Linked DNA regions of Homo sapiens: regions 1 and 3 are each linked to region 2. Evidence: fine-mapped expression QTL. A gene starts in region 2. Each other region holds a variant in brackets. All regions are shown on one strand. Distances are between the middles of the regions. Region 1 overlaps TDRD9 (tudor domain containing 9). Region 2 holds the start of ATP5MJ (ATP synthase membrane subunit j). Region 3 holds the start of RD3L (RD3 like).

Region 1 (4,278 bases), 41 kb after region 2:
TGGTTAGATTTCATATTTGGTTGATGGTGATATAGTGATATGTCTTAGTGAAGAGAACTAGCAATTTTTATGGCTTCCAGTTTTCCCCAGTTCATGTAAAACATTGTGTTGTTAATCATGTAGGATAAAGAGACAGCAAGAAAATAAGAATAGTCAATTTTAAGGTTGAGCTGGTCCTCATGCCGTTTTTGGATTTTTGCTTTGTTGTATGTAGTTTGTTGATTTGCCTTAAATTATCCGTGATGGATTTCCTTCTTATTCTGTTGCTGATGCAAAGGTGCGAGAGCCACACAGCTGGGAACATTTCTGCTGTTTGGTTTCCTGTCTGCCCTTTGGCAGTGTACGCGGAGGCAGGACTTGATTTGTGCTGGGTCTGCTTCAGCCAGTGACCTAAAAATGTCAGCTTGTGTTTTGCGTTACATGGAGAAGGGGCTATGGTATAGACAGTACCGTTAGGACTTCTGGCATTTTTTCTTGTAAAATTTCTGTCTTTAAGTAGCAGTCTTCAAAATGCATGTAATCAAGTAATGTAAGCCAATATTGTCTAAGTAACAGGGCTTGTTTAGCGGCATGTGAGCCAGGGCTTGAAGTCTTTTAGCAAAACGAACGTGGCTGCAGCCTTTTTCGTCTTTCTAAAAGAATCTTTGTCACCTTCTTTCCCCTTTGAGTAGCTCTTCCTCAGCTTCTTACTCCCACCCTGTTCCTCACTAGAATACTTGCCTCTCCCTTTGTCTGCATGCTGTGTCTGGGCTCAGGGCCTTCTTTCTCTCAGTCCAGTTCACAAGGGCCATGGGGATTCTCTTCCCCTTCTTTCATTATGTTCAAGAAGGCCTAGGTATATTAACTGGGAAAACAAGAAGGCATCAGTAATTACCATAGCACTGAGAAGAGGAATGGAAGGAAAGTGAGACGTGATAATGGAAAGAAAATCCCTGTTTTAGTAAACTTGGCAATCACTAGTTAGGCTGATTAGAAGATTAAAAAGCCATAGGTCAGGCGTGGTGGCTCATGCCTGTAATCTCAGCAATTTGAGAGGCCGAGATCAGGAGTTCAAGACCAGCCTGACCAACATGGTGAAACCCCATCTCTACTAAAAATACAAAAATTAGCCGGGTGTGGTGGTGGGCACCTGTAATCCCAGCTACTCAGGAGGCTGAGGGAGGAGAATCGCTTGAACCCAGGAGGCAGAGGTTGCAGTGAGCCGAGATCGCGCCACTGCACTCCAGCCTGGGGGACAGAGCAAGACTCTGTCCAGAAAAAGAAAAAAGAAAAAGAAAAAAGGAAAAAAAAAAAAGCCATATCGGCAGGACAGCTTTCCTGAGTTAGGGGTCACTAATATTTTAGGAAGAACATACTCACAAAGAAGCTATTTTTGCTTTGAGAAAGTATGACAGATCTGGTTCCTCTGTTTATATAATTGAGAACAGGGACCACGTAACTTTGATTCAAATGTGGGAAAATAGCCACATTTTAATTACATGTTATTAGACCAGTTAGGAAAATGGGAATATATGTAGGGAAAAGATGTAGGAAAACAAGAGAGAAGCCTGGTTGTGTGTTTTATTAGGAAAGGCCGAGGGTGACACAGCAGGAGATGCTGGTCAGAAACAAGGGGCTGATAGGAAGGGAAGGTGAGTCGTGGGGTAAGGGAATGAGTGCGGTGCTAAATTTGGCTAAGAGTTTATTTTGGAAGTAAAACTTATTTCCCAGCAAAAGTTTGTCTTCCGTGAGTTTTGATGATTTGCCAGTTTGTCAAGTGATGACCAGAGGTTTAGAATTTGTAGTGCAGCCAGAGAGCAGGGCATGTTTTTACAAGAGGGCAGAGAAGTGTGCCTGGTCAGAGCTCTGTGTCATGTATCCTGAGCAGAGGCAAGCTGCCTGCTTTCCTGATACCTGTATTTCATAAATTGTTTGATTTATTTATTGCTAT[C/G]ACTGATGTATTTTAGTAGCAGGGAATGCACACTTAAATTGATGCATTCTGTTGAAATTTCAAGGAAAAGTTTTCTCTTTAACTGTTTTGGTACCACTGAATCAGCAATGAGTGCGTGTTTTACAGGCCTGTTTTAGAAGGCAGTGCTGAGCTTGCAATATTGGTGGCTGTGATGGAGGGATAGAATGTTCTCAGTTTGCTTTTATACAAGATTAATAGTGGGCTGCTAAGGGAAGTTTCTTAAGAAATTAAACTTTTTATTTTAGATTCGGGGGTGCATGTTCAGGTTTGTTACAAGAGTATATTGGGTGATGCTGAGGTTTGGGCTTCCACTGATCCCATCACCTGTATAGTGAACACAGTACCCAGTAGGAAGTTTTTCAGCCCTTGCCCCTCCCTCCCTCTTCTTCTTGGAGTCCCTAGTGTCTGTTATTCCCATCTTTATGTTCGTGTGTACCCAAGGTTTAGCTCCCAGTTGTGAGAACATTTAATATTTGGTTTTCTGTTTCTGTGTTAATTTGCTTAGATGGCCTCCAGCTACATCCATGTTGCTTGCTGCAAAGGACATGATTTCATTCTTTTTTATGGCTGCATATTATTCCATGGTGTATATGTACCATGTTTTCTTTATCCAATCCACCATTGATGGATACCTATGTTCGTTCCATGTCTTTGGTATTGCCCTGATGGCAGTTTTAGCCTGTAGAAAATGTATTTTTGTATTTGAGTGTGTGTGTGTGTGTGTGTGTGTGTGTATGCTGTATCTATAGATTAGAACATTGAGTTATCTTTTTCCAGATAAGAAATGGCATTGTATTTGTTTGTTTTGCCTTAATCCAGGTCCAAGGCCATCTTTGGCTAAATTAAGCAGTGTGACATGCATCCCAGGGACAACTTATAAATATCCTGATTTGCCTATAAGTCGATACAAGGAAGAGGTAAAATTGTTTTGTTATACTGTAATTTTGCTGTTTGAATACATGTCTGAGGCCCAATACTTTTGGTTTCTAATTTGAAAGTTACCAGTTGCCAGGTGAACACTTCTGTGGTGTACAAGGTTCTGTGGTGGATAAGAGGAGGGTGTGCTCAGGCCAACCTGCAGATGATTTTGTGTAGTAACCATATCGATGGCTTTTCTTTTGATCTGTGCTTTAATTTCTTTAGTCTTCGCCTGAGTACATCTTCTAACATTTAGTTTATCTAGTCTTTCCTTCCTCAAAATATCTGCAAGTAAACACTTAGTCTTCCCCAGGAGAGCTTCTTGTTTAAATAAACTCACTGCTAAATGTTTTTATGAAGCAAATGACATACCCTAGCATTTCCACTGGGTTTTCTTTACAGCGTTGGCCCTTTCTCTGCCTGTTGATTAATGTAATCAATCATTGACATACCATTGTATTAACAATGCCAGGCAGATGTAACAGTAGGACGATTAAGTTCCTAATTACTTGCGTGTTATTAAGCATCGTTAAGAGTAAGCGTATCGGAACCTTTATTAACTGGAAGAAGGAGTTACAGATAAAACTAGAAATGTTTCAAATTTAATTTTTACTTTGCTTTAGAGTAAATCATGCAACTAAAAATTAGAGGCCAGTATTCAAATTAATTTGTATTTCCTGACCATATCAATTGTTAGAAGGATAAGAGCTTAAATAAGTTTAGAGTGGAGGTCGGGGAGTTCTGGAGGAGGAATTTGAGTGGAGTTTTAAAAATGCTGCATATAATCTGTAAGTGGAAAAGTGGAAGTTACTTGTTTCCAAATATGTCTGGAGGTGGGAGGATCACTTGAGGCCAGGAGTTCCAGACCAGCCTGGGCAACATAGCAAGACCTCATCTCTACAAAACACACCCCCCAAAATTAGTGGAATATGGTGGCACGTGCCTGTGGTCCTGGCTTGGGATGCTGAGGTGGCAGGATGGCTTGAGCTTAGGAGGTCAAAGCTGCAGTGAGCCATGATTGTGCCACTGCACTCCAGCCTGGGTGACAGAGCTAGAGCCTGTGTCTAAAAATAAATAAACAGATATTTAATAGATAAAAATATGTCTGAAGAATTTAAGATGACATTTTAAAACCACTTGAATGTAGTAACAGCTCTTTTTCTCATGTTCAGTAGAATTATTTGCAGATTCATTACAAAATGTTAATAGAAACTTGGGAAGAGTCATAGAAATCTAATTTTACATTTTCATTTTTACAGAAGCAGTTGAGACCCAGGAAGCTGGAGTTAACCTGGCCTGGTTTTTCCACAGCTATCACTAGTTACTATTTTTTTTGTTGTTGTTTTTGTTTTTTTGTTTGTTTGTTTTGAGATGGAGGCTTGCTCTGTCGCCAGGCTGGAGTGCAGTGG
Region 2 (4,167 bases):
AAAATTACCCTTAGTCCCCAGTGCAACAGGGGCCTGCTATTCAGTAGCTTGCAAATACCTTTCCCTTCCTTTCCCCTTGACTTCAGTTGCCATATTTGCCTGGACAAGTGACATGTTCCCAATACATAATAAAACGAGGGCCCCCCCTTTTTTTTTTTAGACAGAGTTTCAGTTGGTCATCAGGCTGGAGTGCAATGGTGCGATCGCGGCTCACTGCAACCTCCGCCTCCCGGGTGCAAGCGATTCTCCTGCCTCAGCCTCCCGAGTAGCTGGGACTACAAGAGGCCGCCACCACACCCAGCTAATTTTTGTATTTTTAGTAGAAACGGGGTTTCACCATGTTGGCCAGGATGGTCTCGGTCTCTTAACCTCGTGATCCGCCCGCCTCAGCCTCCCAAAGGGCTGGGATTACAGGCGTGAACCACCGCGTCCGGCCCCTACTTTTTTTTTTTTTTTGAGACAGTCTCGCTTTGTCACCCAGGCTGGAATGCAGTGACGCGATCTCGGCTCACTGCAACCTCCGCCTCCAGGGTTCAAGCGATTGTCCTGCCTCAGCCTCCTGAGTAGCTGGGAAGCTGGGACTACAGGCGCGTGCCACCACACTGGGCTAATTTTTTGTATTTTTGGTAAAGACGGGGTTTCACCGTGTTAGTCAGGATGGTCTCGATCTCTTGACCTCGTGATCCGCCCGCCTCGGCCTCCCAAAGTGCTGGGATTACAGGCGTGAGCCACCGCGCCCAGCTACATATTCCCAACACATAATAAAACGACAGCCCCTACTTTTTTTTTTTTTTTTTTTTTTAAGACGGAGTTTCACTCGGTCATCAGGCTGGAATGCAATGGCGCGATCTCGGCTCACTGCAACCTCCGCCTACCGAGTGCAAGCGATTCTCCTGCCTCAGCCTCCCGAGTAGCTGGGACTACAGGTGCCTGCCACCACACCCAGCTAATTTTTGTATTTTTAGTAGAGACGGCGTTTCACCATGTTGGTAAGGATGGTCTCGATCTCTTGACCTCGTGATCCGCCCGCCTCAGCCTCCCAAAGGGCTGGGATTACAGGCGTGAACCACCGCGCCCGGCCGGCCCCTTTCTTGAGTCCATTCTGCCCAGGCACATTTCCTAGCTGTGTGTGTCAGTTTTACAGCACCAGACCTTTTAAAAATCCATCTTATTCATAGGCCAAACGTGTGTCTACTGTATCCACTTAAGTCTGCAAAGTTTTGGCACATTACATTAAGGGCGAACTATTACCTGACACTGGAAATGGGAAATGTCTGACCCGCGAGTTCCATACAATTTCATTCAGCACCGTATGATCTCTTTTCAGCTTCCCTGTTGCCTCACCCAAGTTGTCATGTACAGCATAACGTGGAGGGCAGTGTGGCGCAAGGAAACTTGAGTTATAAAGGAGAGAAGGGACTGGATGTGGAGTCAGAGTTCTTGGCTTGGACTCTGGCTTCTCTAACTCTGCGTAGCCTCTGGGTTAGGCAGCTGAACCTCTCAAGGCCAAGGTACGCTCCCTGTCAAAACCGTGGGAGAATTCAGGTGCACTGAGCGCGTTAAGGCCAAGGAGGGAAACGCGGCGCAGGCCTAGGCGATGCTTCCCTCTGGCAACCGACCCTGGCCTACCTCCCTTCAGAGAAGGGAAAGCCGGGCAGAAAAGCAGGCGCGTGCCGGCGGAGGGGTGGAACCCCAAGATCAGCTGGGGCCAAGGCGGCTTCTCGCCCTCCCGCCCCCGCCGTCTCGCACCTCGGGAGCCAGGTCCAGGTCCCCGTACTCACCTTGGCGCAGGACAGACGGCTCAGAACGCACCACAAATCTGCAGCCAACTCGGAAAGGTCACCGAGCGCGCAGGCGCGCGCAGGGGATGCCGGGAAGGCGGAAGCAGCAGAGACGCCGCAAGGCCAGAGTGCCTCCCCAGCGGCGCCTCCGCACCACAGCGCCCCCGGCGGCCGCCTGGTGTCGCAGGCAAGAAGGGGCGGGGAGAGGGTGCGTTAGGGGTGTGCCCGCGTGTGTCACTGTGGGCTGGCTAATCCTCCACATCTTCCCACGACTGATGGGTTTCCTGGGACGCGGGACCTTCAACGCTGAAACTAGGAAAGTTCTAGACATACCGGGAGGGTTGGTTAACCTAAGAAAAGGGACCCTCTTTACTGTGACGTTAAAGACTAAGTCAAGTCTCCCATTTCAGTGGTGTGTCTTGTCCCTTTCTATTGTTAATTATTTAGCTCTGCATGTATAAAATATATATATTTGGAGACGGAGTCTCACTCTGTCGCCCACGCTGCAGTGCAGTGGCGCGATCTCGGCTCACTGCAACCTCCGCCTCCCGGGTTCAAGCGGTTCTCGTGCCTCAGCTTCCTGAATAGCTGGGATTACAGGCGCTGGTCACCAAGCCCAGCTAGTTTTTGTATTTTTAGCAAAGACGGGGTTTCACCATGTTGGCCAGGCTGGTCTTGAACTCCTGACCTCAGGTGATCCACCTGCCTCAGCCTCCCAAAGTGCTGGGATTACAGGCTTGAGCCACCGCGCCCGGCCTGCTCTGCATATTTTTATGTCTGTATTCTGTGCATATTCTTCTCAGCAGATAATATAAAACTTCCACAGGGGCTCCAGACACTGGGCTTAATAGTCTTAAAAATATATATATATATATATATTTTTTTTTTCAGAAATATTTTCCAGTAGAGAACTAGAAATCATAAAAGAAAAAAATTTAGCGAGCGGATCACCTGAGGTCAGGAGTTCAAGACCAGCCTGGCCGACATGGCGAAACCCCATCTCTACTAAAAATACAAAAATTAGCCGGGCTTGGTGGTGGGCGCCTGTAATCCCAACTGCTCAGGAAGCTGGGGCAGGAGAATCACTTGAACCCGGAGGGCAGGGGTTGCAGTGAGCCGAGATCTTTGCACTCCAGCCTGGGCGACAAGAGTGAAACGCCATCTCAAAAAAAAAAAAAAAAAAAAAAAAGCCAAATAAAAATTGGATGGAGGCTGGGCGCAGTGGCTCAGCACTTTGGGAGGCCTGTAATCTGTAATCTTAGCACTTTGGGAGGCCAAAGCAGGCAAACTGCTTGAGTTCAGGAGTTTGAGACCAGCCTGGCTAACATGGTGAAACCCCTTCTCTACTAAAAATACAAAAATTAGCTGGGTGTGGTGGTGGTGCGCACCTGTAATTCCAGGTACTTGGGAGGCTGAGGCAGGAGAATCGCTTGAACCCTGGAGGTGGAGGCTGCAGTGAGCTGAGATGGCGCCACTGTATTCCAGCTTGGGCGACAGAGCGAGACTCTGTCTCAAACAAACAAAACAAAAAATTGGATGGATTTGGCAGATTAGACAGTTAAAGAATAAACTGCAAGATCGAAGAAGCCATTCAGAAAATAAGAGGGATACAGCAGGAAAGATACCAATCATATGGGTAATTGGTATCTTAGAAGGAAATTAAAGAGGTGAGGCAGAAATATCTGAAGAGCTAATGGCTGAGAATTTTCCAAAAGTGATGAGAAAAAAATCATGCCAAAGATTCAAAAAGCCTTACAGAGGCCAGGCGCGGTGGCTTACGCCTGTAATCCCAGCACTTTAGGAGGCCAAGGCGGGCGGATCACCACACCATCCTGGCTAACACGGTGAAACCCCGTCTCTACCAAAAATACAAAAAAATTAGCTGGGTGTGGTGGTGGGTGCCTGTAGTCCCAGCTACTCCGGAGGCTGAGTGAGAGAATGGCGTGAGCCCGGGAGGCGGAGCTTGCAGTGAGCAGAGATGGCGCCACTGCACTCCAGCCAGGGAAACAGAGCAAGACTCCGTCTCAAAAACAAAAACAAAAAACAAAAAACAAACAAAAAGCCTTACAGAAACCAAGCAGGCAGATAAATAAAAATAAATCAATACCTTGAAATCTCACAATAAAGCCATAGAAAAGATAAAGATAAAATCTCAAAGAAAGTAACCACCAATCAAGAATTCTATACACAGGGAATTCTATACACAGGGAAATTGGCATTCAGAAAAGAAGGTAAAATAAAGACAGTTAAGGACAAACTAAGAGGAAATCGTGCTAGGCATGGTGGCTCATGCTTGTAATCCCAGCACTTTGGGAGGACTGCTTGAGCCCAGAATTTTGAGACCAGCCTGGCCAATGTATTAAGATCCCATCTTTAAAGGAAAAAA
Region 3 (4,278 bases), 22 kb after region 2:
GATTCTGGTAGTTTCTGAGCCAGTTGTAATCCACACCTGTTTTTTTCACTTTTTGTTCATTTTCGATTTCTTGTATTAATCTCTCTCGCTCCTTTAGGTGCCATTTTAATTCCCGAAGCAGAGTCTTTGTCACTATGTCTGAGCCAGGATAGTGTGTGGGTTTGTAGGAATCGTTTTTGGGCCATTTCATCCAGCCAAAAAGTGGCATTTTTAGCCTATGGAAATATTTTCACTTGTTTATTTGCTCAAAATGTTATGTTCTTCTGAGCAAATATTTGTTTCTTTACAATAAATTTGCCCGAAAAGTGCACGATTTTTTTTCACATTTAGCTATGCAGGTCAAAATAAGATTAGAACATGGATTAACGTCTTAATTTTTAACTAGGTCAGTGGCAGAAACCAAGCTTTGAAAATGCTTTTATGTAGCTTAGCAGAAATTAGATATACAAAGTCAGAGATAACATATAGACTGAATGATATCCGAAAATAACACTAACACTTGCTGTGAAAAGTTCTTAAGAGACTTAAAATATTAATGTCGGGGCAAGTGCTGCCTACAGATACTTTTGATTTATGTTTTGGACAGAAAAGGTTTAAAGCTTACCTGTTAAGTTGATGGGCTGATGTGATGTTGCCAAAGAGTTGACTGAAGTTGGTGACGAAGCTGTGTTTCACTGGGACGTATCTTGCTCTCCTAGGTGTGTCCTCTGTAGAAGGAATGCGCCACCTTATTTACCCACCGAAACTGTATTTGAAATAAATAACTTTCTGTGTTAGGAATGAGGCTGTGATGTCTTCATTTGGAGAGAATGCTCATTAATTCACCTTGTAAGTAAGCTAGAAGAAATGACAAAAATAACTGACTATTTAATCTTCACAAGTTATATAATGGTCTGCCTTTTCAATGTAGCTCAGTCTATTTGAAAAAAATGCCAGCAGCTATAGATGCTGGTCCTAAATGCATTCCGACATGTCTTTGGTAGTGAAACGAAGAATGGTCGTCTAAAGCACCATAGATGCGCTCCGAGCTAGAGTGAAGACTGTCGCGTGATGTGATGCTTTGCTGTGCATAGCTGTAGGTCACAGTTTAGTGCTGTATTTTTATGCCTGTAGAGCTCTAAAAATAGCCACGTTGCTTTTATTCTTCAGCTTAACTTTCAGGCCATTTGGAAGCCGGGTCACTGTCCCCTCTAGTGAAAACAGGAAAAATAGATTAGACTTGACTATTTGCAAAACATACATTCTGAGAAAACTCATTGTAATTGAGTGAAATAGGTAAAGAATGCTGATGTGAATTATAATTGTGAAATATTTAGCAAATGTTACATTTTGTATTCATTTTGGTTTTTTCAAAATAGTTAAATTTGTATATTTAAGCAAGTTGAAATGCTAGGGGACATAATAAACAGCTAGATAACTTTAAAATATACTTTATAATCTCTGAAAATATGGTAATAAGGCAGTAATTGGTTGTCAGGGAAAAATAGAGGCATAAGAACATACAAAATTCTAAACAAAATCTTATAATTCATCGTAGAAAAATCATTTTCGTGTTTTTTTTTTGGAGCTGAGGATGAAAAACTTATATTTACTATTTAGGTGCATATTGGTTTGTAATGGTCATTATTGTGCTATTTCTTTTTTCTTTCTTTCTTTTTTTTGAGACAGAGTCACGTTGTGTCACCCAGGCTGTAGTGCAGTGGCATGATCACGGCTCACTGTAGCCTCGACCTCCTGGGCTCAAGTGATCCTCCCACCTCAGCCCCCTGAATAGCCAGGACCATAGGTGCATGCCACCACAGGTGCATGCTACGGCATGCCTGGCTAGTTTAAAAAAATATATACACACGCACATATGTACATACATATATGTTTTATATATGTACATATGTGTATGTATTTTATATATGTACATATATGTATATATACACATAAGTATATATACGCATATGTATATGTATTATATATGTATATATAAATATACACACATATATAATACACACATATATACACACACACATACATTTCTTTTTTTTTTTTTTTTGTAGAAATAAGGTCTCCCTGTGTTGCCCAGGCTGGTCCGTAAACTGGGCTCAAGTAATCCACCTGCCTCAGCCTCCCAAAGTGCTGGGATTACAGGCATGAGCCACTGCGCTGGCCTGTGCTAATTTCCTATGCAAGTGTTTGTCTTTTGCTAAAGAGTAGATAGTATAAAAGGTCTTTTACTCCCCAGTTCTCTGTGAAACGACTGCATAGTGGTTTTCCCTTTTATAGTATTTGTTTCTTCTGTTGCTTTTCCTTTCAAGTGAGCCATGAAGAGTAGACGTTGTTTACATCAGACTTGCATGTCATGCATGACCCAGAGTGACGTGTGTGGCCACCCTACAGCTCCTGTTGCTTAGATGTTAGAAAAAGCCAGATGTCAGGACTGATTATTGTCAACTGGAAGGTTTTCACATGACATTGCATATACTGTTAGG[A/G]GAAGGAAAGGAGTAAAGTTTATGATGACAGAAGTGTCCTACCAAATTTTATACTAAAATTACAGCGAATCTTGCCGCATACTCCTTTGAATAACCTCCTTGTTACTGCATAAATTTTTTTCCTCTGAAATGGTAACAAAAATATCAGAACATATTGGATATGGAACTTAAGCCAAATTTCTGTTCAAGGCCCTCTGCAGTCTCACATTATCCCTCCTTCAAGGCCCTCTACAGTCTTACGTTATCCCTCCTTACCTGGCTTGCTTTCTTGCTCGACCCTAGAGCACACCTTTTGTTTCAGCCAGGCCACGTTGCCCCCTGACGCTTGCCATGCTTACTTCTGATCCTTCAGCTTTGGTTCAACTGTTTTTTCTCTTCTGAAAAGCTGCTTCTTTGTGTTTTTCATGTATCCACATAGTAATTCTCTTTTTCATGGACCAGCTCAAATACCAACTGATTTTTTCCTTCAACCTGAGGGTCAATGTGAACATCTTCCTTGGCCCTTCTTTTCCTTTGAACTCTGATTTTATTTATCTTCACTGTTAAACTTATAGAAAGACTGGTTTGGTCTGTGTTTCTGTTCTCTCTCCACCCCGCCCCCCACCCTTTTTTTTTTGAGATGGAGTCTTGCTCTGTCGCCCAGGCTGGAGTGCAGTGGCGTGATCTTGGCTCACTGCAACCTCTGCCTCCTGAGTTCAAGTGATTCTTGTGCCTCAGCCTCCCTCGTAGCTGGGATTACAGGCGTGCACCACCACACTCAGCTAATTTTTGTATTTTTAGTAGAGATGGGGTTTTGCCATGTTGGCCAGCTGGTCTTGAACTCCTGACTTCAAGTGATCTGTTCGTCTTGGCCTCCCAAAGTGCTGGGATTACAGGCGTGAGCCACCGTGCCCGGCTTCTTTTCCCTTTTTCCTAATGCTTTCCAATTAGATCCTGCTGTGTCCTCTACTGTAATTGCTGGCTTTCAGTCACTTAACAGATATCTATTGACTGTCTGCCAGGGCCTGAATAGTTAGGGGCTGGGGTGTAGCAGTGAACAAGAAAGACCTAGTTCCTACTCCCAAGGAGCCAGCCTCCAAATGTGAAGACAAATATAAGTACACAAATCAGTAAGGTAATTATAGATGGTCATAATCTATTAATATACTTGGAACACTTCTCCCACTTAGAACTGGAGGTCAGAGAAGACCTTTTTGGGTAGGAGGTATCCTTTTAACAGAGATTTAGAGATCAATGAGCTAGCCACTGGAAGAGCTTCTTGAAGGCAATCTTCCTTCTCCACTTACTTGTTTGACACCTTTCTTGCCATTGAAACCATTACCAAAGACCTTTTCAGAACTTTTCTTACCACCTTAACTCACATTGAGTATACCTTCCTTTGAAGTTAATTGTGTAAACCAATTTTTCTAGTACTTAGTGTGTGCTACTTGCCTTACAGATTTTATTTTGTCCTGTCTCCTGAGATTATCAGATTGAAGTAGAGACCCAAATAATTCTCTGATTACAGTATTTCTTCTACTGCTGTGTAGATAGAGAACATAAATATTTGTAAGCAAAGGTAAGGAAGTATCTTGGATTGTATTTATCTTACATTATAATGAGTTGAAAAAATGAATTGTTTCTGATGAATTGCAAACTTCCTAGGATATTTTGTGTGGACGACATAAAGCTTAAGCTGTTAGGTCCTTTGCTTTTTGGTCATTGTCATAGTTTTCTAGTTTACACCTTGTTAGCTAAGTATTAAATTTTATAAGACTTAAAATGAAATAGGACCGTATCATGCATAATATATGTGTGT

What was found. PIP is the estimated chance that this variant, and not a neighbour inherited with it, causes the effect.
Region 1: its variant is the best candidate, but not a certain one, in a credible set for the expression of ATP5MJ in whole blood (INTERVAL, PIP 0.69).
Region 3: its variant is the best candidate, but not a certain one, in a credible set for the expression of ATP5MJ in whole blood (INTERVAL, PIP 0.58).

The regions. Positions count from the first base shown.
Region 1 is chr14:103,960,309-103,964,586 of GRCh38, forward strand. TDRD9 (tudor domain containing 9) reads left to right here. Exons shown (of 36, transcript NM_153046.3): 3 at 2,771-2,868. Among named protein-coding and RNA genes, the nearest start is that of RD3L, 20 kb to the left of the region's middle. The variant C/G (reference allele first, on the strand shown) is at 1,931.
Region 2 is chr14:103,919,689-103,923,855 of GRCh38, forward strand. ATP5MJ (ATP synthase membrane subunit j) reads right to left here and starts at 1,841. Exons shown (of 4, transcript NM_004894.3): 1 at 1,782-1,841. RefSeq lists an enhancer at 1,496-2,171 and silencers at 1,806-1,978, 1,865-2,034.
Region 3 is chr14:103,941,488-103,945,765 of GRCh38, forward strand. All of the region lies in intron 1 of TDRD9 (tudor domain containing 9), which reads left to right. It overlaps RD3L (RD3 like), which reads right to left and starts at 1,042. Exons shown (of 3, transcript NM_001257268.2): 1 at 605-1,042; 2 at 1-215. The coding sequence starts at 208. The variant A/G (reference allele first, on the strand shown) is at 2,481.